Linked DNA regions of Homo sapiens: region 2 is linked to region 1. Evidence: fine-mapped expression QTL. A gene starts in region 1. The other region holds a variant in brackets. All regions are shown on one strand. Distances are between the middles of the regions. Region 1 holds the start of METTL21C (methyltransferase 21C, AARS1 lysine). Region 2 holds the start of LRTM3 (leucine rich repeat transmembrane protein 3).

What was found. PIP is the estimated chance that this variant, and not a neighbour inherited with it, causes the effect.
Region 2: its variant is the best candidate, but not a certain one, in a credible set for the expression of METTL21C in skeletal muscle (GTEx, PIP 0.56).

What each region holds. Positions count from the first base shown.
Region 1 is chr13:102,689,574-102,705,676 of GRCh38, reverse strand. METTL21C (methyltransferase 21C, AARS1 lysine) reads left to right here and starts at 10,633. Exons shown (of 4, transcript NM_001010977.3): 1 at 10,633-11,308; 2 at 14,713-14,864. The coding sequence starts at 11,179.
Region 2 is chr13:102,750,440-102,766,542 of GRCh38, reverse strand. LRTM3 (leucine rich repeat transmembrane protein 3) reads left to right here and starts at 7,471. Exons shown (of 4, transcript NM_001146197.3): 1 at 7,471-7,841; 2 at 7,967-8,000; 3 at 8,091-8,133. The coding sequence starts at 7,611. It overlaps LOC105370337 (a long non-coding RNA gene), which reads right to left and starts at 6,889. Exons shown (of 3, transcript XR_931685.4): 1 at 5,988-6,889; 2 at 5,236-5,342. It overlaps TEX30 (testis expressed 30), which reads left to right. Exons shown (of 6, transcript NM_138779.5): 6 at 1-655. The coding sequence ends at 142. RefSeq lists a silencer at 11,380-11,601. The variant T/C (reference allele first, on the strand shown) is at 8,375.

The DNA.
Region 1 (16,103 bases):
TGCATTTTCCTGATGACATATGATGTTGAGCATCTTTTCATCTGCTTATTTGCCATCTGTGTATCTTGTTTGGGGAGGTTTCTGTTCAGATCTTTTGTCCATTTTTGATTGAGTTATTCATTTGCTTATCGTTGGGTTTTAAGAGGTTTTTTTTGCATATTTTGGATAAAAATCCTTTATCAGATATGTCTTTTGCAAATATATTCTCCCAGTCTGTGATGTGTCTTATTCTCTTGGTGGTGTCTTTTGCAGAGCAGAAGTTTAAGCTTTAATGAAGTCCAGGATATCAATGTTTTCTTTCATGGCTGGTTTGTTTTTATTTGACTCATTGTTTTCCTTCTCACTGCCCTTGATGACTAATAGGGACCTCTCCTCCACTTTCTGTGCCCCAGTATTCATTATGCCATTTCTATGGATCCTACACAATTGCCATGGGCATCAAATGAGATGGTGTTTATAGATGGGGTTTTTAAACTGAAAAGCAGCAGTACACCTATCAGGTGACATTACTAGTCTATTGACAGTACACACACACACACACACACACACACACACACACCACATGCACATATATATCCACATGCTTTTATTTCTTTCTTCTTTGGCCAGTGGATTGTATTCATTATACCAATTAAAAAGAGACCATCATTCTTTTTTTTAAAAAAAAAGGAAAAATGTAATAAAGAGACCAATTTTTAGTCAGGTGCAGTAGTCACATCTATAATCCCAAAGACTTGGGAGGTTGAGGCGGAAGAATCATTTCAGCCCAGGAGATCAAGGCTGCAATGAGCCATGATTGCGCCACTGCAAACCAGGCTGGGCAACAGCGCAAGCAAAATCCCAACCTGTTAAAAAGAGAGAAGACAGAGAGAGACCATTTTTTTTTTTTTTTTTGTATTACAGTTGACAATAGCATTTGAAATCTAAGAGATAAGAAGCTGTAAATGTCATCTTTCATTCCAGAGCTTTTAGAAGGTTACCTTTCTCTGTCTCAGGGAGAAGTGTATCTATTTCAGTGCCCTCTGTCTCTGGAAGGGACAAAAATTCTTGCATGACCCAGGTTCCTCATGCCACTTCTTGATCTAGCTGTGCACTTCCTTGTGAAATCTAGTTTTAGCAAGAAGCTTGCTAAGTCAGTTTAGCCAGAACCCTTGATATCTGATCATCTTCCATCTTCCTCATCTTCAGGGTAAGATTCCTCATCCTCCACCATCCCCTAGGTGATGTCTCATACCCCGACCTGTCTTCAGCAAGAATCCTGTTAGGTCGGTTTAGCCAGAATCCTCCTTACCCAGATGTTACCTCATAGTAATTTTCTATCCACTGACCCCCTCCCTGCTCCTTGACTATAAGTTCTTACTTGCCCCTGCTGTGGTAGAACTTGACCCTGTCAACTTGAAATAATCGAAAGAATTAGAACCTAGCTTGAAAGAAGTTATTTAAGCTTTGAAAAGCTGAGAATATCCATCTGGGAAACACAGACTCCAGAGAAATGAGGTGAGCGCTCTGACGTTAAAAATTAAGCTTTTGCTTATATAGGCAGAAAACAGAGAAGTTTAGTTGGATTGTAACATTTTCTATACAAAGCTGGTTTATGAGTTACGGCAATTTAAATGGTGACAGTTTGTTTGCTGCTTGTTTTCATTTTCTTTCCAATTTAAAACAGTATATTTAGTATTGCATCTTAAGACAATGTGATAGCCATAAAGTCTTTGTGTGAGAAAGGTAGGGAGAAAGTTAATCTATAATGAAGATCCACAGTGAATAGGGAAGAGGTCTTCCCTGAGGCCCTTAAGTCATTTACATTTAATAGAACAATGTAGGGAAGGAAGAAGTTTAATCTCTAATCAGAGAAACACAGGTTTCAGTTGCCTGGGTTATGTCTGCCTGCTTGCCTGACTCAGGCCCCATAATCACATTCCTTTAAGGGTCAAAATAATTTAAAGTTCCAACAGCTTAGATTTTGAATTATATATTTTCACAAGCCCCATCTCCCCCACCACAAAACCTCACTGCCGTGGTTCCTCCACCAACCCTGATGATCCTGAATAACATCTGCTTCACTGTGCTGTAACGAGCGTCGCTGAATAATGTTTCCTTTAACAGAAGCGCCAAGAACTATCTTTGCGATTTTGCAAGATTTTCCCAGTTTACATTCATCTCCTGCTTCAGGGTTTTCTTTCCATTTATTTTGACAAAACTAAATGAAACTGGCAGTTAACTTTAACTGAGTAATGAAAGACAACAAAAAGCAAACAGAGCTGGAGACAGAGAGAGAAAAAGAACACCAATGAATTAACTGTGGCAGCACCTTGAGATTTGATGTTTTCTGGCCTGCAGGCCTGGCTACGGGGCACCTAGAACCCTCAGGGCTAGAAGTTCCAGCTGCCCATTGACTAAGCTCTAGGAAAGGAGAGGAAGGAGCAGAAGAGAGCAGGGAGGGGAAAGGAGAAGGGCAGCACGTGAAGCTCTAAAAGCTTCTGATTTATTTTGCTGAAGATCTAGTCATCAGCTATAGAAAGAAAGGTGTCATTGGTAAATGTCATAACCAGGTGGTTTATGATAGCTCATGTTACCTCTATCCCACTGCAATGAGAGTATTTATTTGAAGCTGTCTCTCCATCAATTACAGGGAAAGATCTTGAGAAAAAGACAGTTTCATGTAACATCTTTCAATATATTTTATTCCATGGTACTTTGGAATTATTGTTATATAGCAAATGGCATATTTTAAAAATTACCCTTTCTAAATTTTTGTTGTTCGTATATAAGAATGCTGTTTTTGGGGTTGGTTGCAGTGGCTCACGGCTGTAATCCTAGCACTTTGGGAGGCCGAGGTGGGTGGATCACCTGAGGTCAGGAGTTCGAGGCCAGGCTGGCTAACATGGTGAAACCCTGTCTCTACTAAAAATACAAAAATTAGCCTGGCATGTTGGCACATGCCTGTAATCCCAGCTACTTGGGAGGCTGAGGCAGGAGAATCACTTGAACCCAGGAAGCGGAGGTTGCTGCAGTGAGTGGAGATTGCGCCATTGCACTCCAGCCTGGGCAACAAGAGCGAGACTCCGTCTCAAAAAAAAAAAAAAATCCTGTTTTTGTACAGGATCTTACACGCAGTTGATAAACTCCTTCATTAGTTCCAAATAGTTTGTCTATAGAATTTATTGCATATTCTATATGGAAAATCATGTCATCTACAAACATGAAACTTCGTTTATTCCTTTCCAATTGTTACAGCTCTTATTTCATTTCCTTGCTTTTATCATACTGTCCAGACTTCTACACAATGCTAAATAGGAACAGTGACAGTGGATATTGTTGTCTTTTTCCTGTCTTTGTAATTTTCCTCCATTTAATGTGTGTATTATGTATAAATAATGAATATATTTAATGTGGGCTTTCAGTGGACACATGTTGTCAGGTTTATGAAGTCTCTCTCTCTCTTTCTGTCTCTCTCTCTCTCTCTCTACATATATATATATGTATATATATACACACACACTTTTTTTTTTTGAGGCAGAGTCTTGCTCTGTCACCTAGACTGGAATGCAAGGGCACGATCTCAGCTCACTACAACCTCCACTTCCCAGGTTCAAGTGATTCTCCAGCCTCAGCCTCCAGAGGAGCTGGGACTACAGGCACCCGCCACCACACCAGACTAATTTTTGTATTGTTAGTAGAGACGAGTTTCACCATGTTGTTTAGGCTGGTCTCAAACTCCTGATCTCAAGTGATTTGCCCGCCTCAGCCTCCCAAAGTGCTGGAATCATAGCATGAGCCACTGGGCCCTGCCGAAGTCCCCTAATATTTATGTTGGTTTTAAAAGACCATGAATGATGTTGACTTGTACCAAACTTTTTTATATATCTTTCAAGATGATCATATAGTTTTTCTTCTTTAGTCTGTTAAAGGGAGGAATTACACACAAATTCCCCTTTTATCAGCTCCCACTAATATTGCAGCATGTGCCTTGTACTTTTCTTCATGCTCGTAGAATAATCATTTGACAAGAGTATGCACACAGCCACACATGCATGCACACACACGCACATACACACACACACACACAATCAGGCTAGACTAGAAGTATGTGTGATAACAAACCTCCAGCATCTCAGTGGTTTGTCCCCTAAACGTTTGTCTTGGTCATATAAGATTTGCACGCAAGGGGCAGTGGTTGTCCGTGAGAAGGTGCAGCTATGGAGGCAGCTTCCTTGAATGGCTTCATTATTTCTCCACCCAAATACTTTGCTTTTTACTAGAGAATGGGGTAGAAGCAGATTGGAGAAGTTCCCAGAGGCATTTCCTTCCAGAACCTGGTGGAGTTGGTATGTGAAAGGTGCTATGTCTCTCAGAGACGAAGGAAACAGAACCCCAGAGCTGAAGAGGCGCATCTAGGCCACTTATTTGGAAAGGGGGAGGGCTCAGCTTCCAAGGAACAGGCTCTCTGTTGCTTTTCACCTGGATAGATATTTAAATAATTCAGAGTATTTCCCCCCAAACCTTGACAGCATGGCCTCATGGGAGAACGTCTCTCCAATGGAGTCCATTCCTTCCCCTAGAACAGGGGAAGGAATGAAAGGAATTCCGCGTTGTGGCACATCCCAGAATAGTTCCATCAGGTAAACACATTCTTTCCTAATAGAAATCTGTTGGGAAAAAATGATCTTTCTGAACAGTGGTCAACTGCTGTTGCTAAAATCGGAGCATGATTAGTGACAACTAAGTCCCCTCTCAAAAGTGTCATGTCCAAGCAGCGGACGGCGCTATGGAAAGAACGGACAGCGTTGGAGGCATCTGCTCCTGGCTGGGAGTCGTAGGGTGTCAGAGTCATGGGGCAGCCTCTCCTGCTGCTTCCCAGGCCTCACAGTAAAACAGGAACCGAGGCATCCTTGCCCCTCCTCAGCTTCAAAGCTGAATCACTGTGAAGATATGGTGTTTCCACACTGATACATTTATTTCACTTCATTTATCTGAGGATTAAAGTGAGCTGCAGAAAGGTATCATTTATTAAAGTGGAAAATAGAATAAATGTCGTTGCCAGAGTATCCCTTATTTCAAGCACATTTTCAGTGTCAGACTTTCTCATCCAAACTTGTTTCCCAAGCACAGCGTTCCTCCGTGTAATTAATATCACATGCTTATAGCTCAGCTGCAAAGCATTCTTGGCTATTTTGATAACATGAAACCTGGCAGTTACCCGTTGTGATTTACACATAGTTGCAGTTGGAGATTTTTCTAAAATTACAATAAAATTTCTTTGAGGGGAAATCTGTTTTAAGGACTGGATTGGGGAAAGAAAATAAAAAATAGAAGCGAACAACTAAGTATGTCTATTCTCCAAAGTGCATATAAGTCTATCAAGGCAACACACTGGCCTTTGATCAGAGCCACTTTACAAGGCAGGTGATTTATGGACAGCCAGGCCATCCCCTGCAGTGAAGCCTGGGGCTCGAATGCTTAGGGACAGGCATGTGCTATTTTTAAAATAAAAAGACTATAACTTCACTGCTGTTTCCAAACCTATTGGATTATTTTACTGCTATGCTTTATTTCCTTCTTCACTGGTAATGTTGGTCATCTAAGATGAAACAGAAGTAATATTTTCCATGTTCGCAAGTCTGACAAATTTTAGTTTACAAAATTCCTTTCTCTGCAGGTGGAGATTTGACACTGTACCTGAGTGGGTATAGGATTTAATTGTTACCAGAGCCAAATCCAAAGCAGGAAGAATCCTGTCTTAAAATCCTGAAGCACAGGTGTTCTAAGTGGCCTCAGTCTTTGCATCCCATATAGAAGCAGCTGGCAGTCACAGCGGCTGCTCTCAGGGGACTCCCCCAGAAGTCTGGCCAGTGCAGGGCTGGGTCGGGGGGGTATTGCAGCAGCCCTGGACCATTTGACAGACAGGATTCTGACATTTGGGCCACTGTGTTACCAGCTAATTGAGGGACCAGAAGTTATGAAATTGCATGATTTCACTTTGACCTTTTCTCCATTACTCACTGGAAATCACACACATTGAATGTCGGTGGTTCCAGGGTTCTTGAAGAAGGTCTGTGTCTCCAATGAAACCCTCACTTCTCTGGGAGGGAATTCCCACTGAGTCTCCCTTATAAGTAGGCATGGTGGGTATGTCTTGCATTTGCCTGATCAGTATCTCATCCTTTGTGGACCTTTTAGGAAAGATCAATGTGGAAATCAATGAGTCTCCTATTCATATTCTGGGATGGGAACAGGAATAGCAGCCCAGGGCGAGCTGTGGTGAAACAGCCAATCAAGTTATTGTCAGTGGTCCCCTGGGATCATGTGCCTGTTATGGAAGAAGCAACGGAGCCAGGGAAGAAATGGACATCATCTAGAGGTTTGGACTTGGGAAGTGCAACTCCATTGCCTTTAGTTGCAATAGCTGGAGGAGACTTCAGGTTATTTTCCACTGTAGAAAGGGTGGGTCTCCACTGTGAAGTTGTATTTATGCAAATAAGGAAGTATGTATGCACTGGGTGAGAAGAAGGGTAGGAGGGCTATTATAACCCTTGCTTTTTATGGGTTATGGCCCTGCATCCCTTCTTTGAGTTGCCAGCCTGCTCTTCGTGGTTTGGTGCAAGGCTTCCCACAACCCAGCCCTGACTATAGGGGTGAACTTAAGACTAAGAGCACTCGGAATCTTTTTCCCTAGACATTGAATCTTGACCATAGATACACAGTGATGGATGGTGACTGCAGTTGTGACCTTCAATGGCAATGTTTAAACAGAAGGTCCATGAACTCCTGCTGCTGATATCTCTGGAACCAGAGCAGCCCTGGACCCTTTATATCTCAAGGCCGATGTGTTATAGGACCAACAGGTTCATATGCCCACTGTGTAGTAACAGGCCAATGCACTGAGACAGCCAGGAGGCAGCAGAGAAAGAGTTTAATGATTGCAGGGCTCCTAGTGAGGAGATGGGAGAAGACCCTCAAATCCATCTCCCCGAGAGTTCTGAGTTGGGGTTTTAAAGGGGATCTTGGAGGATGAGGGGCTGGAAAATTGGGGTCATTGATTGGTCAGGGTGAGGAGGATGAAATTATCAGGATGTGGAGCCTGTGTGCTTTGGTGAGTCAGCTTCTTGGGGGGTCCTTCAGACCTGCTGATGTGGGTGGTTTTAGTGGCATGTAGGACGTGAAAGAATATCTCAAAGGAAAACAACATTTCATAAGGTTCTAGTTGTTATCTCTAGAGCAGATAAGGGGATCTATAATCTTGTAACAGGGTCTATCTGATTCTAAGACAACAGACAAACAACAACAAGGAAGTGCGTCAGAGAACAGGCCGACCTCATGATCCATGCTGCGTGTGCTGCAAGCTCATTTTAGTCTCATTTCTCTCCCTCCCTTCTTCCCTGATGAATAAAGTTTATTGGGATGGTTTCAGATGCTCAGCTTTTCCATATGATTAGGTGAGTGATCCAGAACCCTTCCAAAGAACCCTGTGGACTCAACCCTCTGTTTGAACAACATACAAGATAATATGAGACATTTATTTATCGAGGACCCTCTGAGCACCTGGCACTGTGCCAGATTCTTTCAGATATATAAAATTTCACTTGCTCCTGTTGATTCTGGAAAGGAGCAACGGCATCTTATGAAGCTGTAGCAGATACTGTCCTGGCCTCGCTCATGTGTGTCAGATGTGTTGGAGTGCCCTGGCTGCTGCTCTGCATGTGTAGCTGAGGTCCTGCTGGAAAAATACCACCGGAGCTCTCTGCAGCTGGAGTGGAATAATTCTGAAGTGTGTGTTTTGCCTCCTTTCCCAGTGTCTCCCCATGGGGTTAAGCTCTGGTCGCCTGCTCCTGTTGCTGGTCTTGTGGCACACACGTGGCAGGATGTCACCCTTTCCCTGGGTTGCGTCCACTTTCCTTGCTGTGTTATTCACACTCCCCAAATAAAATACTTTCACTCAAATCCCTGCCTTGGAGTCTGCTTCATCGAGAAACCAGACTAAGTAAGATGGGGGCTTCTGGGATGCTTGGAAGATGCAGCTCAGGGTTGGTCCTGTGTTAATCCCTCTATCAATGCAAATCCACCTCCACCGTATAGACGAGAACACTGAGACACAGGGGAGGCGGGAACAACTCACCTGACATCACTCAGTCAGTAGACACCTAGGCTGGTAATTGTGGTTTACCCTTCATGGCAATGCTGATCCTTTGCCTGGCCCAGGGTGGCTTGACCTTTGCACTGTGGACATTCTGAGCTGGGTAATTCTTTGCTGTGCGGGGCTGTCCTGTGCATTGTAGGAGGTTTTGCAGCATCCTCCGTGCACTAGATGCCAGGAGCATCCCACCCCCTATTGCGATAACTAATAATGTCTCCCCCAAATTGCTGAATGTCCCCTTGGCAAGAGGGGAGGACTCCCCCTTGAGAACCACAGCCCAAGAGAGCCAGATTTCATAGGAAAAAAGGCAGTGCCCATCCTGACAGAGAGAGGCGAGTGACAGCACATGAATAGCCTCCTTATTGAGCCTTTGATCCAATCTTGTATCTTCTGACTCCAAATCTGGCCCACTTTCCATTATGTAGGCTTCTTGGGATCAATTGTTCCATTGTTCTACTTGTTAGAAAGTTCTTTCCTGTTGAGCCCAAATCTGCTTCCCAGTAACTGACTTCATCAGCGTGCCCTCCGAAGCCATGCAGGAGGACTAATCCTTTTCACCGGCTGCACTTCAACTATTTGAAAACAACTTGTGTGTCCCTGCCCTGTTCCCTCCCTGCCCTGCCCCCCGTCAATCCCTTCCTGAACCTTTGGAGTCTTCCCGTGGCTGCTTGGGCACTCAGAGTTTCGCTCAATAACAAATTCAGCAATTACAACACCTACTATGTGCCAGGAGCTACCATATGTCAGAGAACAATTCTCAGACAGGGAATTCAGACTTCTTGGTTCCTTCTCACACCTGCAAACAAGAATTGCCAGAGCCTGGAGTTGACGCATGTTAAAGCTTCCGGGTGATTTGGACATAGCCTCTGCCTACAGGTAAGTCCAGCATTTAAGAGCCTTTGATCTACCGTGGTCTAGCTCCAGGCAATAGAGCTCTGATGTATATCTTAAAGCAGCTATCTAAAAGATGGCTTTGAAGAAAGTATTAAAAAGGAACTGTTTTTTAAATTATTTATTTATTTATTTTTATTATACTTTAATTTCTGGGGTACACATGCAGAATGTGCAGGTTTGTTACATAGGTATACACGTGCCATGGTGGTTTGTTGCACCCATCAACCCATCATCTACATTAGGTATTTCTCCTAATGCTCTCCGTCCCCTAAGTCCCCCACCCCCTGACAGGCCCAGGTGTGTGATGTTCCCCTCCCTGTGTCCATGTGTTCTCATTGTTCGACTCCCACTTATGAGTGAGAACATGTGGTGTTTGGTTTTCTGTTCCTGTGTTAGTTTGCTGAGAATGATGGTTTCCAGCTTCATCCATGTCCCTGCAAAGGACATGAACTCATCCTAAAAAGGAACTCTTAATAGGATGCTAGGTTAAAGAGGTACATGTTTCTATCAAGTCACATTTTCAGTAAAATAGCTTTAAAAAAGTTTATACAAAAAAAATAAGCCTAGAAGTTGATACAAAAAAAAAAGTTGGTGAGGTTTCTTTCTCTAGATAGTAGAATTAAAGGAGATCAACATTTTTTCCTTCGTCCTTTGCTTCATTTTAAAGCTTGTAGAATGAACGCATATGTTTGTCTATGTGTGTGTCTACATGCATATAAATATACACACATATATTCACGTACATTGCAATCAGTTTTTAAAAGGTTTTTGTAGAATTGTACTGATGACTATCTTTTTGCTATTTCTCATAGGGACTGATGACACCTGGAAGAAATAAGTTGCAGAGATGCAGAATGCAATCATAGAACTAGATGCATTTGGGGAATAAGAAAGCATTAGAACGATAGAGCTGGAACAAATGCCGGCTTATCCCCAGTCATTTAAGAAAGTGGGAAAGGTGATTTACATGGGACCACAGCACATCTAGATGAACATCCTGAGTGAAAAGAAACTGACATAAAGAACACAAAATAGTGACACCAGAGAAACGAGTACCGAGGGTGGGTACAAAAACAAAAATGGGCTTTTATATCTACTCAGGTTAAAACACCATTCATCCAACTCCCTGGTTGAATGTAGCCTATCACAAGTGATTCTTTAATTCCCATTTGTCTGAGGCTTTACTTTGTGTGACCTATATTCTATTTTAAGGGTTTCTGAGCTTCACAAATGAGCACATGATTTTTCTCCTTCCCTTTTGACTATCCCTTATTTCAGTTAAATAAATCACAATGGCTTACTTTTTCTTGGAAGAGTTTTTCTGATTTCCTCTTCCCTCTGCTCTAAATCCCCCAGATTCAACGTTAAGCCTTTGACTCCCGTCCCTTCTCATGGATAGATGCTCTCCTTTCTTCCTCCCCAAAGCATTCCCTTCCTCTTGGTAGATCCTTGTGTTCTTTCTGGCTGCCTGGATACGGGTCCTAGGCAGAGGCTGGGTGGGCATGTCCTCCCTGTGGCTACTGGAGTTTGGCAAATGAGCACAAAATTTGCAAGTCTGTGCAACTGTCCAACACCCACTTCTTTGAAAAGTGAACTGGAAGTCTAACGTTTCGAACCACATCGCAGCAACTGGATGCCACAGGGGCAGCCTCTGTTCTGTTCCAGTGATATTCCTGAAACTTTTGAAGGGAATTCCATTGAATGTTGCTAGGACTGTGCGTGTGTGTGTGTGTGTGTGTGTGTGTGTGAGAGAGAGAGAGAGAGAGAGAGAGAGAAAGAGAGAGAATTCTAGCAAAGTAATGTGTCTATGAGGACTGGTAGATAATGCTACCCTAAATAACTTGGGCTTCCACTGGCTGGATTTTGTTCATCAAATGCTAATCCTTTCAGGTGTAGACCTATATAAAACACTGGGGATTAAAGAGTGCACAGAAGCCTCACATCTCTTCTGCTGCATAAGGTAAAGATACGTGTAACAATTCAAAATTATTTTGGGCATACTAACAAGGAGTCATTTCCAATTCTGTATTAATTACGAACATGCGATGTAGATCATAGATGTGCTGAACTAGTAACAGTCAGTCAGTAGATTATAGTCGTTCTTTTGTAGATTGCTTTTCAATGCACAGCTGTCTTTGGGACAGCCGGCTATGGACGTGTGTCTGAGCTCCGCGCAGCAGCCTGGGCGCCGGGGGGAAGGACTCAGCTCCCCGGGTGGCTGGTTAGAGGCTGAGAAGAAGGGGGCTCCGCAGAAAGACAGCACCGGGGGAGTCCTAGAAGGTAACCTCCTTCTTCATCACTTCAACAGTTTTCCTCAGTTGTTTTCCTGGCGATGACATCTTCAAGTAAATTTCAGTGACAAGAATTTCCATTTCCTTTTAACATTAGATTTTTTGCTATAATGAAGCTTAGCAGAAAAATGTTTTGCAAGTATAAACATAATTCCTGTTTTTTCATTATTTACTTATTAAAAGTAATTCCTGGTTTTTCATTACTTATCAAAGTTTGCACATTTGTTTTTTTTCTATGTATAGATCTAAGCTTGCTGTATTTTTGTAACAAGAACTTAAAAGAAGAACAAAAAATCTAGGTTCATTTCTGCTTTTCACCAAAATACATTCTTGGTAGCTTTGTCATACAGTGAATCTTTATAAATCAAACTGTATTTCCCCGTTAGGACAATGTAACAGTTTAGGGTTACATTTCTGGGCATGGATTCAGTTGTAAATAAATAATAGACATAACAAATGATCTAATAAAAGCCAAGATGCAGCATTTACAGTGTTCATAATTAAAGGTGGTAAAAAATGTATCCCAACTCCAATAAATGAGAATGTTGTCTATTTTTACTGCATTGTTTACGTAAAAATGCAACTCTACCTTATCTGAAAATCTGATCTCTCTAAAACTATCAGAATAGCACAGAGAATAAATGAAAATATTTCAGGCACAAAAACATATGTTTCTTTATCGTTGTAGAACCTCACAGGGTCTTATGAGAGAATACGTGTATGTCTATGTTTCCTTACAATGTTGATTGGAAAAGTGCAGCTGTCAAGCTTAATATTTGTCAGTTTATTTACCTGTGAAATGATGAGCCATTCAAAATCAGCCTACTTACTCTTCCTAGTCTCTAGAGAAAAATAAGTCCCCAGATGGTGACATTTGGAAGGAGGGACAGGCATGGCCTGGATGAGAGTGGGGCAGGGCAGGGAAGCCGGCAGGGGCTGGTACAGGTCCCTGATGCTCTGAGCCACCACCCAGTGGTGTGCTGGCGACGGCTTGTACTGGCACCTGAATTTCAGCATTTTTTGTAGCTGATTGTTATATATAACCATCATTTAAATTTAAGTTAGAATCTTATGATTAAATAGATTATATTAAAGACAAAGGTATATTAAAAGCAAAGTTGATAAACACTCAAAACTCATCATCAATTATTCTATTACCTCTTCCTAATATCTATGCTCTCGAGGTTAATCGTGTCTGTGGTGTCTGTACGGTAGGAACACTACACAGTGGCGAGGTACTGCACGTCTTTCCCCAGCGAAGTCATGCTGCTTCTCTGAAAACGGCACGGTGGGAGTATTTACTCCAGAGCAATCGTCAAACGCTGTCAATCACCGCTTCTTCCCCTCTTGCTGAACTAGTTATTAAACATTAATCACCCTATTTTTCGGCCTTCCTCCTGCCTCTAAACCAGAATTCAGAGCCAGCCTCTCAGCCCTGTGTTGGGAGCTGGGGTTCTGCTAGATGTCAGTGGCTTCCCAAAAGAGGTGGGGAAAGCTACAGGGCTCCCTCCTTTCCCTACAATCTCCCTACAGCCTCCTACCAGGGCAGGTGACCGCAAAGGACAAGGTCTCAGGACTGAATTGGTTACCTTTATTAGAGGCGTCTTGCAAGTTCACTGAGGTCCCAGGTTTCTGGAAGCTCACCTTTTTTGTCAGGGCAGAGAATTCTCCTTCAAAGTGGTAGAACATACTAAATCAAAGTCACAGGCTAAAACAACACTCTGAAGAACTGAAGGCACCCATGATGCTAATTTACAAATGAGTCACTTCATTCACATTTTTTTTTTAGTGTGCTGCACACTGATACTTTTGTAATATACAACAAAAATGAATTTCTAGAGAAATTAAATGAAAATATATACAGACATATAAAATACAAGCTCCGGGTTTTGTTTGTAGTTAGATTCAACAGGCATCGTCAAATGGTTGTGACTGTTTCTAAAGGCTCACTCCAAATCCCTCTACTTACTGTGGAGCTGTTATCAGCATTTGCAGAGCAGTGGCAGGGAACTGTTCCAGTGTGTATGGAATGAGTGAGACCTGAAACACCCGGAGGCCCTGCCCCCGACCTGAGGGATGCCCTGCTGACCAGGTTTCTCCCAAGACCCACTTCCCTTTGCCTCGTATTCACCTCCTCCTGCCTTCCACCTTGAGAGGCTATTTCAGATTAAAACACTTCCAATGTTCACCGGCTGCCCCCTTCTACCTTTGTCCAAAGCCCATATTTGACCCCCGGTTAAACATTTTACAGTCATATCCCAGGCCACAAAGGCAGGTTTCGTGCAAACAAAACTGACCTTCCTCCCCCCTACTCTCCGCACTGTTAATTCTTTCCCACCCGCTGGGACCAACACCTTTTCCTCTGCTCCTGCTCCTTCTTCCACACACTTTGACTCACTGCTCTTTTATTCCTAAACACTCTGGAAAACCTGCAAACACTTGTGATCTCTTGATGTCAGCCCGATCAGGTGCTCTTTTCCTCTCATTTTATATGCCATCTGAGAGCTGCTAGATGGGTCATGGGTTTAAAGGAGTATTTAAAGCAATAGTAACTTAATAGCCAGAGCTCAGCTGACATCCTCCCCCAGGGCTGTGGGGCTGGCTGGGCCTCTACCTTTTGAACAGCAATTGTAGGAAAGATTGAAGGAACATGCTCCAGCCAACACGTGGGAATGTTACTTCACTTCAAGACCTAAAAATAGGCAGGTCTGGCGGGGCGTGGTGGCTCACGCCTGTAATCCCAGCACTTTGGGAGGCCAGGACGAGTGGATCACGAGGTCAGGAGTTTGAGACCAGCCTGACCAACATGGTGAAACCCCGTGTCTACTAAAAATACAAAAATTAGCTGGGCGTGGTGGCGCACGCCTGTAATCCCAGTTACTCAGGAGGCTGAGGCAGGAGAATCACTTGAACCCGGGAAGCAGAGGTTGCGGTGAGCTGAGATTACACCACTGCACTCTAGCCTGGGCAACAGAGTGAGACTCTGTCTCAAAAAGAAAAAAAAAAAAAGGCAGGTTTGTGTTTACCTAGTTCCTCTGTATCCAGACAGCTCATTCGTGCAATTTTGCTGGTAAGTTCGCCATTTTTCCATCAGCAAAATTTAGGGTGGGGACCGATCCACACATCTTCTGTCCTCCCCTAAATAAAGAAAAGGCCCAGAGCATTCTTTGGCATTTTGTCATCTGATAAAACTGTCACATCCAAATTTCATGTCCCCATCACCCCATATAATTCAATTTTGTGCCAATTTGCAGCCGTTCTCCTTGATAGCATCATCCCTTCTCTTTATGTAAAGGTCATTCAATCTAATGCCATCTTAGCAATTATACCAAGTGTGTCTTTGCACTGGATTTGAACAAATCATGAACTCCATTTTATTTTTCTGCTTCACAGAATCCAACAAGATAGAACCATCTCTTCATAGCCTCCAGAAATTTGTTCCTACAGATTACGCCAGCTACACTCAGGAGCATTATCGGTTTGCAGGAAAGGAGATTGTCATCCAGGAATCCATAGAGAGTTACGGAGCGGTGGTGTGGCCAGGGGTGAGAGAACTGTCATATTTGTGATGTCAGGATTTCTGGAGATAACAATTCCGTACTTCAGAGTTGCCTTGGACAATTTGTCAAGTTCCTTCATATCCTGCTTCTCAATTTGAGGTTCAGTTGCTTGCCCCCTGGAGGGTGTTGGTGGAGTGCTTGGGATCAGCAAAAACAGTGTTTCTTTCAGAAACACTGGTTTTGCTTCAAGCTCTGTTTCTCGAAACATTATTTTTATATTAAATAAACTCAGCTATATGAGGAAGTGAATGCAAAACTTGTATAAATTGTTAAGAATAAACCCAGGGATTTAGAGTTTAGATTTTGCAGTGGGCATCTCCGAGCCACGCCCATCGACCCTCAGCCATTCATCTCTCTCTTTTTTTTTTTTTTCTTTTGAGATGGAGTCTCACTCTGTTACCCAGGCTGGAGTGCAGTGACACGATCTTGGCTCACTGCAACCTCCACCTCCTGGGTTCATGCAATTCTCCTGCCTCAGCCTCCCGAGTAGCTGGGACTACAGGTGCGCGCCACCATGCCTGGCTAATTTTTGTATTTTTAGTAGAGATAGGGTTTCACCATATTGGCCAGGCTGGTCTTGAACTCCTGACCTCAAGTGATCTGCCCACCTCGGCCTCCCAAAGTGCTGGGATTACAAGCGTGAACCACCACGCCCGGCCGGCCAGCCATTCATCTCTTTTCCATGGGGGCTGTGTCGGTAGGGATGTTTAGGAAGCATGACTTTGTGGCATGTCACCCCTGCCACAGCCCTGAGAGGATGGCGCTGAAATGGGGGCAGTCCTCTGGATTTTTAGTCAGAAAAGCTGCCATTTCAGGGCTGGGTAGTCACAAATGTTCACCTCACCTCCGTTTGCCTTCATTTCCATATTTAAAACCTAGGGTGGTCGTAATGTCTACAGTGCTCCTGACGTGGTTGTCAGAATTGTGAGAATTAATTTCAGATTGTGAGATTAAATGAAGTCCTAGCGTAAGCTCACATGAACTGTCCTCATTAATGTAATATTCTTTCCACCTTTCAGCTGAGGAAATGGGAACGCAGGCCAGTCTGCTGGCGTGGTAAAGCTCCCGACTGGGGTGCAGGGCAGAGCCAAGATAGACAGTGGCCCTCAGAGCCAGTGTGGTTGCTTTTCCCACTGCGGATGTTGTCAGTGATTAGAAAGGCTCCAGATCAGAAGTTCTCAATCTGCAGTCTTGTTAAAATGCGGATTCTGATTCAGGAGGTCT
Region 2 (16,103 bases), 61 kb before region 1:
CCATAAAATCCACTGGATTGAGAAGGCAAATCATTCCATGGCAGTGAAAGGACGGTCGACAAATGATGTTTTCAAAGAAATAAATACACAGATTTTGTTTTGGATCCAAGAAATTACTGAAATGGACAAGAAATGTCATTAGTTAAAAGCCATGTTATCTTGAGTACACATACAGTTAATTTGATAAAGAAGAGTATGCCTCTCAGCATTGTGAGATATATTTCAGACTAATTTGATGTTCTTTAATGTTCCCTTATTTTTGAAACACGTTTTAAATGTGAAATTAATGTCCTTCACAAAATGTCTTTTGAAAGCACTGTTACAGTTGTATAAAGATGATGTAAAAATATTGAAGGTGGTCTACATATAATTTATTTTCATTAGTATAGTTAAGTTTTGAAAAAAATTAAACATCTGAATTTTGTTACAAAAAGGTGCTTTTGTCTTATTGATAGGCAACTGAGAAATTTTGCAGAGCAGCGTTATCTTCAGAAAAGGAAAACATTATGGTTAATCTAGTCAGAGATTTATAGAATGCACACATCTCTTCACCTTATCTTTTAATAAATCACAATGAAAGGATAGGAGTGGACATATGTTTCAAATATGGGGACCCTGAAGATTTTTTAGAATGAAATAAAGATCTTTAATTCAAGAAGTGTTCACTGAAGGCTTATTACAGGCAAACCTCATTGGGTTTGCAAAGATGAATAAAAACTTGGAGCTTACAACATAGTGTGTGAGGCTGGGCACGGTGGCTCACATCAGTAATCCAAGCATTTTGGGAGGCTGAGGCAGGCGGATCACTTGAGGCCAGGATCACTTGAGGCCAGGAGTTTGAGACCATCCTGGCCAACATGGCAAAACCCTGTCTCTACGAGACCATCCTGGCCAACATGGCAAAACCCTGTCTCTACTAAAAATACGAAAATTAGCCAAGTATGGTGGCACACATCTATAGTCCCATCTACTCGAAGGATGAGGTGGAAGAATTGCTTGAACCCAGGAAGTGGGGGCTGTAGTGAGCCCAGAGCACACCACTAGACTCCAGCCTGGGCAACAGAGTGAGACTGTGTCTCAAAAACACAACATAGTGTGTAAAATCAATAGACTACTCTGATTAAAGAGAGAAATAATTGCTAAATTGTAGTACTAACATCTTTGCTATATCTATGCAGTTGGGGCACTTAATTTTGCCTTGGAAAGTTCAGCTATCACCTGATCTCGAGCTTGAATGGTATTGAGTTATATATAAAGAACATAGTTTCTGTATTTCCTGTAAAATTCACAAAAGGTGATGAGGCTGATGTTAAATTTAAATAGAAGTTTGTAGTAAGAAATGTTTCTTTAATCTTTTGCATATCCTCCCTACTACTCTTAATGTTAGGCCATTAAAATAGCCTCAAGTGGCCTGGGCAGCTTGCAGATTTTTGAGGCCCTTTATTCCTCTGCCCTGATGGAATCAGTAGATTCAAAATATTAGTTTTCTAAATATGACAAAGAGAATGAAAACGTAGGTAATAATGTCCAAATCTTTCACATTGTAAAGTGATGCATAACTATAAATTTAAAATTCCTGTGACTATTTATAATAGATATTCTTGACTAAAAGTCATTTCCTGAACCTAAATTTTTAAGAATGTTGTATAAGTAAACAATAATTAACATTTGAAATTTTAAAACACTACTAATATCAAAAGATGATAAACATAAAAAATATCCAAAGCTATCAAGAAGATAGAATCACTGGTCTATTAACCACTATAAGTCATTGAAGAACATAAGTATTGTGAACCAGAAGTAAAGCTAACAGGACAAGGAAAACACAAAAGACAACTTATTACATAATGTTAGAGTACAACAAAACATTTAAAAGGCTACTGACCAGGCTATACAATTTACAATATTTGCGTTTGCAAAATTAAACTATAGGCATAATATGATGACCAAAGATACTACATCAAATATAGGGGTAATGTAGGTAGATGATCATTTAAAGTTGATTTTCCCCTGAGTTTTCTATAAGAAACTACTGTTCCTTATTGATGTAATGGCTTGACATTTGAGGACTGTATAGCTAGCCATATTTGGGGAACATAGAACTCCTAGAGAAAGATGAATGATGTATCCACAGCAGAAACGAACATTTAGGAAAAGGTCACATCTGCTCTCCTCCATAGATTTACCACGCCTTGCAGGAAAATGTTCAGCCCCTTCAAGTTTGAGATTATAATCAAAGAGCCATTCTGGCACCTCTTCTGGTAGGCCCTAATTAATGGCATAGCTGTTATTGAGGGGGTCTTGACTGCAAGTTGTCCAGGTTCTTGACGTTTTGGATAAAGAATTGGACAAAATGCACAGCAAAGCAAGGAAAGAGTGAAGCAAAGAAAGCATAGATTTGTTGAAAATGATAGTACACTCCACAGTGTGGGAGTGGGCCCAAGCAGCGGCTCAAGGACCCTGGAAAAGGAATCTTCTGGGGCCCAAACACCCTCTAGAGGTTTCCCATTGTCTACCTGGGTGTTCACCCCATGTAAATGAAGTGGTGGCCCACAGTCAGTCTGATTGGTTGCAGAAAGCAACCAGTCAGAGGCTGAAGTGAAGTTACAAAGTTACACTCCCATGCAAATGTCTGTTTGCAGAAAGCAACCAATTTTGCAACCAACTTTCAATTTTCTATCTGCTGCACAGATAAGGTGTGGGTTTGCAAAGGGAGTAGCCTCTGGTCTTTTTGTTACTTAGGCATGGAAAGTTGGGGTTTTCCTATCAACTTAGTTGTAGGAAGTCAGGGTGAATTGGTCTTAGGTTCTCTGCCTCCAGACCCTGTTCTCCTGCCTCATAAACACTCACCTAGACTAATGCTCCCCACCCAGGGGGGACCTTTACCCCTTAGGGCAGTGGTCCCCAACCTTTTTGGCACCAGGGACCCATTTCATGGAAGACAATTTTTCCACCTGACTGGGTTGGGAGTGGCGGGGGTAGGGATGTTTTCTGGATGAAACTGTGCCATCCCAGATCATCAGTCATTAGAGTCTCATAAGCGCACAACCTATAGATCCCCCATGTGCACAGTTCAAAATAAGGTTCCCTGCTGCTATAAGAATCTAATGTCACAGCTGATGTGACAGGAGGCAGAGCTCAGGCAGTAATGCTGGCTTGCCTACTGTTGGTTCATAGTGGGCCACGGACCAGTACTGGTCTGCAGCCCGGGGGTTGGGGACCCCTGTCTTAGGGGATATTTGGCAATGTCTGGAAATATTTTTGTCACGACTAGGGTTGGGGTGCTACTGGCATTCTGTAGGTAGAAGATAGGGATGTTGCTAAGCATCCTACAATACACAGTACTGCAGCCACAACAAAGAAATGTCCTGTCCAAAATGTCAATTAGTGCCCACGTTGGGAAACCTCATCTTAGACAAACCAGATTTGGGATTATCTGTAAGTCCTTTCTCCCTCACCATGAACTCTTCCATCCCCCACCTTGATCCATTTGCTTTTTTTTATTATGTTAGGTTTTTTTTTTGTTTTTTGTTTTTTTTGTGTTTTTTTTTGAGACTGGAGTGCAGTGGCGCGATCTCCGCCTCCCGGGTTCAAGCGATTCTCGTGCCTCAGCCTCCTGAGTAGCCGGGATTACAGGTGTGTGCCACCATACTTGGCTAATTTTTGTATTTTTAGTAGAGACAGGTTTCGTCATGTTGGCCAGGCTGGTCTCGAACTCCTAATCTCAAGTGATCCGACCGCCTCGGCCTCCCAAAATGCTGGGATTACAGGCAAAAGCCACCGCGCTGGCCTAGTTTTATTTTTCTGAGACAGAATTTCACTCTGTCACCCAGACTGGAATGCAATGGCATTATCATACTTCACTGCAACCTTGAACTCCTGGGCTCAAGGGATCCTCCTGCCTCAGCCTCCCAAGTAGCTGGGACTACAGGCGCCTGCCACTGCACCTGGCTACTTTTTAAAATTATCTTTTTTTAGAGAGACGGGGTCTCAAATATTTTTGTAGAGAACAGGGTCCTGCTTTGTTGCCGAGGCTGGTCTCGAACTCCAGGGCTCAAGCAATCTAACTCAGCCTCCCAAAGTGCTGGGATTACAGGCATGAGCCACCACACCCAGCCACTTGCTTTCTTTTAGTTGCTAAATCCTGGGTTTCAGTCTTTTACTCTAATTCAGACCCTTATCAATTCTCATCTATCAGTGCAGTAGCCTAATTGATTTTCCAATTTTATTGTCACCTTGCTTTGATACACCAGCTGGTACTTCCAACTCAAAAACTGTTAGATCTCCGAAGATGGCTCCACAGTAGGGCTCTGTCAACATTTTAGCCTTCTTTTCCCAGACTTCACACCTGTAACCGTGCTATAGCTAACATGGACTATATAAATGTTTATAAAATGGAAGAAGTATTTCTTACTCTTCTTCCTACTTTGTTTGTTCATCTTTGCCTGCTACCAAATCCAAATGAGTAGGGGGGATTTTTTTCCCCTCTTTGCAGATTTCCTTGAAATTACCCCAAACCAAGCATCTCACCTCAAACCCCTGTAATATCTTCGTCCTTTCTGTGTTAACCGAACTCTACCTTCTCATTAAGTTATTAATATCTCCATCTCACTTACATTACAAATTCCTTCAAGTTTGGGATTTTTTTTCCTCATCATTGTTAAATGTTAACAAAGATGTTAACAAAACGTTAACAAAATGTGTTAAAGCACGTTTTTGTTCCTTGTTCAGTGCTTTACACATTTATTATTCAACACATGTATTAAACTAAGATATTTACAGAAAGAATTTCTAACAATTTTGAACAATATCTGGCTTTATGTTGCTGTTTTATATATCTAATATTGGGACTTTTTCCTGTTAAGTAAAGAACAAAAACCAAGTTCATAATGTCAAGATAGTTCAAAGATGGTAACATTGGTAAATATAATAGGAAGTTTTAAAAAAAACTTTAATAGAATTTTCATTGTGTTTTCTCGTAGTGTCTATGTTTTACTACTGTAATAGGCTTTCTCTGATACTCTTTTTCTTTTTACTCTGTAAGCAAGTAAATCTTGCTTAGCATTTACTTTTGATGCTGTTCACTTGACATTGGTCTGAGAGGTTTCTAGTCCAAGAGACAGAAGCATTTATGCTGAAAAATAGATAATTATACTTTTGTTAGTAGCAAGTACATAAGTAACAAACATGACAAAGCCCTGGAGAGGGATAATACTTACCCCTATGTAAACCTACCCATCAGCAGGAGTGGTACGCAGCAGTTCCTTTTCAGTTCCTTAAGAGCTCTTCAGTGGAATGCTAATTAGGGATTCAGTACCATAAAGCTTGGAAAGATCTATTAACTAGAGAGAAGAAAATGTTGAAACAATGAATCCCTTTTAAGATAGTTACCATTAAATGATTTAGAGAGTTTCTGCAAGTAGGTGAGAGTAACAGTATTTTTCCAGCTGCTTAATTTTTCTTTTCCCCCCTGAGATGGAATTTTGCTGTTGTTGCCCAGGCTGGAGGGCAATGGCGTGATCTCGGTTCACTGCAACCTCCGCCTCCCCGGGTTCAAGCAATTCTCCAGCCTCAGCCTCCTGAGTAGCTGGGATTACAGGCACCTGCCACCATGCCCAGCTAATTTTTGTATTTTTAGGTAGAGACGGGGTTTCACCATGTTGGCCAGGCTGGTCTTGAATTCCTCACCTCAGGTGATCCACCTGCCTCGGGCTCCCAAAGTGCTGGGATTATAGGCATGAGCCACTGCGCCTGGCCCAGCTGCTTGAATTTTATGGGGAAACCCAGGAGACTAAAATCACCTCAATTGTCTTTGTGGGCAGGGGAGTACGGGGAAGGTGTACTTTACCATAGTTCTAGAAAAATCAAGAGGAATTGCTGAAGTTTCTTTCAGAGCCAATGAAGACCTACCAAGCATTCTAAAGGGCGATTCTTTGCGAAGACAAAATTCAAGATAAGAATTATACTTAAATAAAGATTAGAAATACCTGTACATTGTGGTCCAGGAGACTGGAAGACTGTAAATTCCAACATTTAGAATGTCATTGATCTCTTGATCTTCAATGTTCAGGGACAGTAAGAGTTGATAATTCTTTTTTCTTTTTCTTTTCTTTTTTTTTTTTTTGCAACAGTGTCTTGCTTTGTTGTCCAGGATGGGAGTGCAGTGGCAGGATCATGGCTCACTGCAGCCTTCAACTCCCAGGCTCAGGCAATCCTCCCACCTCAGACTCCCAAGTAGCTGAGACTAACTACAGGTGCACACCACTATGCCTAGTTAATTTTTAAATTTTTGGTAAAGACGGAGGTCCACCTATGTTGCCTAGTACTGGTCTCAAACTCCTGGGCTCAAGCCATCCACCCACCTCAGCTTTCCAAAGTGCTGGGATTACGGGCATGAGCCACTTCGCCCAGCTGAAGTCATAAATCTTTGTTGTACTTATTTAAACTGATGTGACAGAAGAGGCCTGAACTGTTCACTTCAGTGTAATGAATAATACTTCAGTGTAATGAATAATACTTCTTTGCTTAACCTACCTTGGATAAGTGAAGTACTAAAACAAAACCAAAGTGAAGCATTAATGAATTACATCTGCAAAGGAAGTATTAATTAATTACACCTTCAAAGGAAGAGTACTCTAAATCCAAGGTAGTGTTAACATTTTTCATTATTAGTCCAGACTATCCTGTCTACTTGTGACTAAAATCATATTTGCTCAATAAGCTTCCAGGCCTACCCACTAGACTTTGAAGGGGAGTGGGCAGTACTGTACTTACATCTGCCTCTGCCCTACCCTTAATTCTGACATCGGAAAGGACATCACAAGTAGCTCCCTGAAATCACTGTAGACAGGGTGAAAAGGAAATTCACCAGGAGGTTATTCCAAAGACACTTTAGTTTTCAGCATGTCAATAGATTGTTGAAGGGAAATGGTGCCAACAGACCCTGCTAGCAAAAAGAAATATAAAATGTGTTCTATTTTAAGAAAAAAATCAGACTCATAAAAGACAAGTCATCATACATTCTACATAGTTGTAATGGGACATACTTAGACCAAAAAAATTATTCGACATTTCTCTGAAATTCAAATTAAATTGGGCATCTAATGTTTTTATTTGCTAAACCTGTCAACTCTATCTATATTCATTCTAAGAAAGGACTATATTTTCCTTACCACAAAGAAGCATAAAATACATTGTTCCTGGTGTTAATAGAAATGGTTATGTCAAATGCTTTCTACCAATCCAAATTTATTCTATATTTATAATAGGGCAGCAACAATCCATGATAGAATTATGTTGCTATCTATGAAGTTAAGAGAAGGTAATTTTTTGAATTTTAGTAAAAAACTACTTATACAGTGTACATATCTTACCTATGAACTTCCATTATTGCTAAAGCTAATATGAGCTCAGTTAAATACCCACTATGACACGTACCTCACTTAACTTAGGCCCAGAGCAATCACTGCTGCACTTGATAAGATACCAGCAGCACTGGCCAAATGTTGCACATGGTTATGAGTTGGGCATACCGAGGTTTTATATTTCAGGGCCTCTGAAATCAAGGACTTCTGAATGAGACACCAGTCTCTTTCACATATGACATTAAAATGTCAAAGCAATATTATTCCTTTAAAAAAGGGGTAGGGAGTGGACTGGAAGATAATACATTCATGACATTATGGGACTTTCTAGAGTCCTGGATTATTCAAAATGATTGGGTGGCAATTTTCTTTATAATTTTACTAGGAATTATTTTTGAGATAATACTCATGAAAGCTTGTGCATCCTTTTGGAAGAAGCCCACACTTCCTGAAAAGGGTAGTTCAGATGTCCAGGAGGTAAGAATAAATGGTTGATTTCCCCTTTTCCTAGTTTTCAAAATCAGACATAAGAATAATTTGTAAAATTTTTGAATTTTGATACTCCGATTACTCCTCTAACAATTTTTTTTCCATTAAAATAGACGGAAGACAGTTGCCCCAAAAGCAGGAAACTTGGTAAGTATTATACAATTTCACATTTTAATATAAAACTTGTTCATCCTGAGCTTTTCTCATTGATACTGTGACTTTTTTATTCCTATTCAGCTCCAGAGAATTGGTCAGTTATTAATTCATCTTCAGGAGAAAGGTATGTGATATATCACAAAAATATTTTGAAGCTAAATGAAATAGGTTGGTTGTGTTCTATTCAAAATTGCCTTTACTTCTGAATTTCAGAGAAGGGTTTTCCTAGCTGTTCAATATCATGATTCAATCTAACATTTACTTTAAATTGTTGCTATGCTCCAAGCTGTGTTAAGGACTTTTCGTATATTATTGAAATTATCCTTCGAGGCAGGTAGTTTCTTACAGATGAGGAAAATAAAGCT[T/C]GAAGAGGATAAGTGACTTGCTTTCCTACTCTAACTCTCTCTCCAACACACCAGTTCTTATATTTCAACTGAAAAGATATTTATTTAGCACTTACTGTGGACCAAGCAAACACTGAGCTAGGTGCTGCATGAGTGACATGAAAGGAGTTTGTAAAATCAGAATTTATCAGAATTGTAAAGTTATCTCCGTGCTAGGGATTAAATACTGACATAATCACAACTCTTGATGCTATCAATATTTTAATTGTTTTAATTGAAATCCATTCAACAATTATTAGATATCTACAATATAGTGGACGCCAACACTGGGATTCAAACCATAATATAGTCTCTGTTCTCAAGAAGCTTATATTCTTGTGGAGAAGATGTATACATACAGGAAAGTTGCCCTGTGGTATGGTGACACAGTGACAGAAATATTAATATATTTAGGAGATACCTAAGCCAGCCTAGGGCATTGGGAATGGCTTCACGAAGAATGTTATCCTGGAGCTGAATTTTAAAGGATGAATGAACATTAGCCCGAAAAGGACAGAGGTTTAGGAGGATAAGAAAGACATTCCAGGACATGAACAGAAACAGCAGCAATGTGCAAGAAATTACTATTATTTCAGAGTTGCTGGAATGTTGAGGTTGAGTCAGGAAGTAGTGGAAGATGAATGTGAAGAGGTAGGTAGGAGTCAGGTCATAAACGGCTTTCTATACCATGTTAAGACCTGGATTCAATTCTGTAGATAATAACCACTACTGGTGGTTACACATAAGAGTGGCAGTTTTGTGTTTCAGCTAGATCACTAGTCACTGTGTGAATCAGAGGATTACTTGATGTTCGTCTAATTTCTTTCATTTGTCAGGTATAAAAGGGCTTTATTCATTTAATCTGGTTGCTATATTGTTGTATTGGGTACTAGCAACACTAGTTCTCAGGTGAGTGTCTTGGGAAGCTGTAACAATATCTGGAGGTGTGAGTAGGTAGAACCCTTGTGAGGGCCAGTTGGAAACAGGAATGCCAGCACAAGCTACAGCATGTCAGTAGTGCAATCAGAATAAGTCCAAATGGACAGACCAAGATTCAGCATTTGAGATATTAGAGGGCTTAGGTGTGCATGGTGACCCAAGGTTCACATGTAATTCAAAACCAGAGGATTAACAGGCAAGAGGAATTCACAAGAAGACATGGAGAAAAAAAGGATTTTTAGCTTCAGAATCAAGGACACTTTAAAGATTTTCCATCCCCGTGTCCTATTATTCCCTTCCTGCCTAGACAGAAGTTAATCCTCGGGTGGCATCTTTCTAGGGGGCGTTAAGGGAAATTCATGGAGAAGAAGAGGTTAGGGGGTGGTGTTGAAGAAAAAGGATTAGAGAAAAGATATGGCTCCTGTGGCAGCAGCATATTATGGTGAAAAAACATAAATTTTGAAGTTAAAAAAGGTCTAGCTTTATATCATAGTTCTGCCTCTTTTTGTTTTTTTGTTTTTTTTTTTTTTTTTTTTTTAGACAGAGTTTTGCTCTTTTTGCCCAGGCTGGAGAGCAATGGCATGACCTCAGCTCACTGCAACCTCCGCCTCCTGGGTTCAAGTGATTCTCCTGCCTCAGCCTCCATAGAAGCTGGGATTACAGGCACCCACCATCACACCTGGCTAATTTTTTGTGTTTCTAGTAGAGATGCGGTTTCACCATGTTGGCCAGGCTGGTCTCGAACCCCTGACCTCAGGTGATCCACCTACCTGGGCCTCTCAAAGTGCTGGGATTACAGTCGTGAGCCACTGCACCTGGCCCTGTAGTTCTACCTCTTAATGATGGCATGGCCTTGGGCTAATGACTTAACTCACTATACCTCCATTTTTTTTTTTTTTTCGAACTAAGGATTAGAAGAATTACCTCTTAGGAATATCATGAAGAATAGTTGAAATAGTATGTGTAACACGGTGGCTCACGCCTGTAATCCCAGCATTTTGGGAAGCTGAGGTGGGCGGATCACTGAGGTCAGGAGTTCGAAACCAGCCTGGACAACATGGTGAAACCCCATCTCTACTAAAAATACAAAAATTAACCGGCTGTGGTGGCATGCGCCTGTAATCCCAATGACTTGGGAGGCTGAGAATGGCTTGAACTTGGGAGGCAGAGGTTGCAGTGAGACGAGATTGCACCACTGCACTCCAGCCTGGGAGACGAAGCGACTCCAGCTCAAAAGGAAAAAAAAAAAATATATATATATATATATATGTATATATATACACACACACACACACACACACACACACACATATATATGTGTATACATATATATATAAACTTTTTTTGGGAAAAGAACTATGAACATAGTATTTTTTTATTTTTAACCATTGACACCTTCAAATAATTTTATTTCATTTAATTTTTTAAAATTCCTTCTAAAAAAAAAAACCAGGATACATATGCAGAACGTGTAGGTTTGTTACATAGGGATACGTGTGCCATGGTGGTTTACTGCACCTATTGACCTGTCCTCTAAGTTTCCTCCCCTCGTCCCCCATCCCCGAAAAGGCCTTGGTATATGTTGTTCCCCTCCCTGTGTCCATGTGTTCTCATTGTTCAGCTCCCACTTAGGAGTGAGAACATGCGGTGTTTGGTTTTCTGTTCCTGTGTTAGTTTGCTGAGAATGGTGGCTTCCAGCTTCATCCATGTCCCTGCAAAGGCCATGATCTCATTCTTTTTATGGTTGCATGGCATTACATGATGTATATGTACCACATTTTTTTTATCCAGTCTATCATTGATGAGCATTTGGGTTGGTTCCATGTCTTTGCTATTGGAAATAGTGGGACAGCATCTTAATAAATTATTTTGAAATAGAAGGGTATATTGGCCGAAGCTAAGCATCAGAATGGTTAAAATCTACTGCATTAGAGATGGAGTGGATTTTATCTTGCTTATGAAATGAGACAAAGGAGAAAGGGGGTAGCTGGGGGGGCAGAGAGGAGCAGAACAGAGGGAGTTGCAGGTGTAGTGGTGTGAGGCTTAGGACTGAGTGGCATAAAGGATGAGACCACCACTCAGTATCTGAAATCCGGGGACCCGAGCTGACCAGGTATCGTCTCAGTAAGCAAAGCAAATGGCTGACCTTATATCAGATTTTGGGGTATGGTTTGTTTTAGGGTTGGCCTTACCCATAGATGCATGCTTGAGTGAGAGTCTGCCACCAACCACCTGACTTTCAAAGCTTAAACTTGTCACTGACTGGTTGGTTTCAGAAGTGCATTTCCTGAAGGGAGTTATCGTTGATAGATAAAACAGTTTAAAAGAAGACTCTGTTTATTTGTTACTATGACTATAGGATTGCCATTGATTGATTTACAACTGGTTCTGCTATTGGTTACCATGGCTCTAGAACTGTTACTCTTTTCCTAGAGAATGAGGAGTTGTTTTTAAAATCTCAAAGGCCAATTAAGATTCCTTGGTGGGGAGAGGCCAAAGGACATCTCACAAATGGGGAGACGTACCTAATGTTTAAATGGGAACCCTATGCATGGCTGTAGTCAACTCTCTCCTGCTTCTGCTTCCAAGTCTTCACTAAAATCAGTCACATGATTTTAAACATATATGAGTGGTTTGTGTATGAGGGATTTTTTTCTCACTGAAATTGAGGAAAGAGTTGGGTCAGTTTGTTGTTAGCAATCAGAAGCCTGGAGGTGGAGATGGTCATTCAGCAAATACTTATTGATTGCCTACTCTGTGTCAGGCATTGCTGTAGGCCCTTGAGACTCATCAGCAAACAAAACAGGGTGTGGGGGTGAGACAGGGTCAGACAATAAATGACAACATAATAAATAAATTATATGTCAGGAGGTGACATGAGAAATTAGAGAGAACTGTGCTGACCAGGCATAGTCTCAGTGAGCAAAGCAAACTGCTGATCTTACATTGGATTATTGGATTTTGGGAAATGGTTTGCTTCAGGGTTTTTTTTTTTTTTTTTTTTTTGGAGATGGAGTCTCATTCTGTTGCCCAGGCTGGAGTGCAATGGCACAATCTCGGCTCACTGCAACCTTCATCTCCTGGGTTCAACAACTCTCCTGCCTCAGCCTCCCGAGTAGCTGGGTCTACAGGTGCATGCCACCATGCCCAGCTACTTTTTGTATTTTTAGTAGAGTTGGGGTTTCACCATGTTGGCTAGGTTTCAAACTCCGATGTCAAGTGATCCACCTGCTTCGGCCTCCCAGAGACCTGGGATTACAGGCGTGAGCCACCCCGCCCAGCCTGCTTCAGCATTTTCTTATATTAGGATTAGATCATGCCCATTCCTAAACTAATCACTCAGAAATGGGATTACTATATTAGACTGAGCCTAATAATCTGAGGTAGAACAGGTGTTGGAGAGTAGACATCATGATCATCCAACGCAAAATTTTGTCTTAGTTGAAGAATAGACTTTACTACCAAAGACTATATACTAAAAGTAATGGGCAGATAACAAAGATGTGTATACAGTCTGTAGTAGATTGCTGGGGCTGCCATAACAACGTATCACAAATTAGGTGGCATTAAAGAACAGAAATTTATTTTCTCATGGTTCTGGAGGCTGAAAGGCTTGGTTTCTCCTGAGGTGTTTCTCCTTGACTCGCAGATGGCCACTTTCTTGCTGTGTCCTCACATGCTCTTTTCTTTTTTTTTTCTTTTCTTTTTTTTTTTTTTAATTTTACTTTAAGTTCTGGGATACATATGCAGTATGTGCAGGTTTGTTACATAGGTATACATGTGCCATGGTGGTTTGCTGCACCTATCAACCCGTCATCTAGGTTTTAAGCCCAGCATGCTTTAGGTATTTGTCTGTCCTAATGCTCTCCGTCCCTGTGCCCCTCACCTCCCTGACAGGACCCAGTGTGTGATGTTCCCCTCCTTGTGTCCATGTGTTCTCATTGTTAGACTCCCACTTAGGAGTGAGAACATGCAGTGTTTGATTTTCTGTTCCTATGTTAGTTTGGTGAGAATGATGGTTTCCAGCTTCATCCATGTCCCTGCAAAGGGCATTAACTCATTCTTTTTTATGGCTGCATAGTATTCCATGGTGTATATGTGCCACATTTTCTTTATCCAGTCTATCATTGATGGGCGTTTGGGTTGATTCCATGTCTTTGCTATTGTAAATATTGCTGCAATAAACACGCATGTGCATCACATGCTCTTTTCTCTGTATATGCATGTCCATGGTGTCTCTGTGTCCAAATTTCCTCTTCTTACAAGGGCACCAGTCATATTGGATTAGGGCCCCACTCTAAATAAGTTAATTTAATCAGTTATAAATAAGTTAACTAACATCAGTTAATTTAATCATCTTTTGATGGCCTTATCTCCAAATATGGATTAAGGCCTACCCATATGACCTCATTTAACTTTAATAGCCTATTTAAAGGCCACGTCTACAAATATGGTCACATTCTGAGGTACTACGGTTAGGACTTCAACATATGAATTTTAGAGAAACACAATTCAGCCCATAAAATAGCCTATATATTAGAGGTTAATAAGTGCTCTAAAATTTGAGAGAACTTGAAAACTAACATATTTTAAATATTTACCTAATATTTTTGTGTTATCGATGAAAAAACAAAATCATTAGTGTAGCCTAAAATACCCCAAATTCTAATTAACCAAATCCAGATTAATGAGATTTCATTGTGTCAACTGAAGAATGATGGTGTTTTGAAAAGAATGATGGCGCTCATAAAAGGTTGCAGCCTGCAGGGTAGCCATTCTGACAGACTGGGAAGTGTAGCCTCCTGTCAGAAGCCAGAAACAGGCCATTGGAGGGCAGGAAGAATAAGACAGGAAATCATGCTGAACGAGGTGGATAATACTCATAGTCAATAAGCTGTAGGAGGAGTCATGAATATTTATGAAAGGAGAAATGTGTGCATGAGCAATTGAGCTTCATTCCTCTCCATGGAACTCATGTTCAAAAAATGGCAGCTTTAGCATGATCCGAGGGTGGAGTTTTTGGTCCTCTGACATCAAAAGGTGAAGCAGGGGACATGAAAACCCCCACTGCACATCCTTCCTAGACTGGGCAGAACCACTCTGTGGTTGGTAGTCTCTTATCAGGAAGGAATGCTGGCTGGTTGCTTTGTTGAAGGCGAAAGGGAGGGGCAGCATCTGGTCATTGGTTGATATCAAGGGTGGTGCAAGCCTTTCCAAAGGGCTGTTCTGTTTACCCTTAGGAAAGAAAGCCTAATGGTAGCGAGGCAGGGAGGTGGTATAATAAGGCCTGTCTGACCTCCCATCCCATCATGGTCAGGAATTCATTTTTCAAGATTCCTTTGGGGTCCCCTTGGTCAAGAGGATGTCCATTCAGTCATTTGTGGGACTTAGCATTTCATTTTTATTTCTCAGTTCTACAAGTAATCATTTAGCACAAATAATTTTTGTGGTTGGGTAGATCATGATGGATTTCATATACTGCCTTCACTATTTTGATTGAGGGTTATTTAAAAGTAAAGTCACACTTACAGTAAAGTAAGAGATAATCTGTGTTCTCCAAACAAATAGCTACTAGAATTATCTGACCTATTTTATATGCATTTCAGTTTTTGATTTTAGGCTTGCTCATGCATCAAACAGTGACTATCGAAATTTATCATGTATCAGAATCAGCTGGAGAGTTTATTAAAGCTCAGATTTTTTGACCCCACCTTCAAAACGTCAGATTCCACAGTGCTGGGATGGGACCAAAGAATATGCATTTCAAATAAGTTTCCAGGTGTATTGTTAGGGTTCTCCAGAGAAACGGAACCAGTAGGATATGTGTGTGTGTGTGTGTGTGTGTGTGTGTGTGTGTGTGTGTGTGTGTATAAAGAGAGAGAGTAAGACAGTTATTTTAAATAATTGGCTTAAGCAATTGTGGTGACTTGCAAGCCTAAAGTGTGCAGTTTAAGTCAAAAGGCTGTCTGCTGACAGAATTTCCTCTTGCTGGAGTATGTCAGGGGGTTGAGGTATGAGTCTTTTGTTCTATCCAGGCCTTTAACTGATTGGATCATGCCCACCCACATTAGGAAGAACAATCTGCTTTTCTCACAGTTCACTGATACAAATGTTAATCTCATCCAAAACACCCTGGGAGAAACATCCAGAATAATGTTTGACCATATCTCTGGGCATCACTGCCCAGCCAAACTGACAAATAAAATTAACCATCACACCAGAAGATGCTGATGCTGTTGGTCTGAGCACTTCTTAGACTGAGACTAATCATTTGAGGTACATGGGTGTTGGCAAGTTCACATCATCCATGATCAGTACTCCGGCCCAAAATTGTACTGAGACGTGCTTCCCTAAAATGTAGGCTTTTCTTTTGATCTCAAAGAACTGTTAACATAATCTGGATTTATCTATAGACAGCTAGTTTATACTATTGGTATTCTTCTGTTGTACCTATTACATTTCCATAAGAATGTTTTCTTTTAGTGAAAACTTTCATATAGAGAACAGAAAAGATATTCCTTGTAAAATAATATAATCTTAATCCAGCAACTTTGACCCAATCTTGTCAAAAATAGACTTTTAGAGATGCTGAGGTATAGTCTCTGAGATATATAATTGATTTACTTCACTTTTTCCGTCGATTAGTTTATTAAGTGAGAAGAACTAGGTAATGAATTGTTTTGTAATATGGATAATGATTTTCCAATTTATCTCTATGCTGATCTGTTTTCATATACTATGCTGCATTTTCTTAAATCTAAAGGTAATTCTT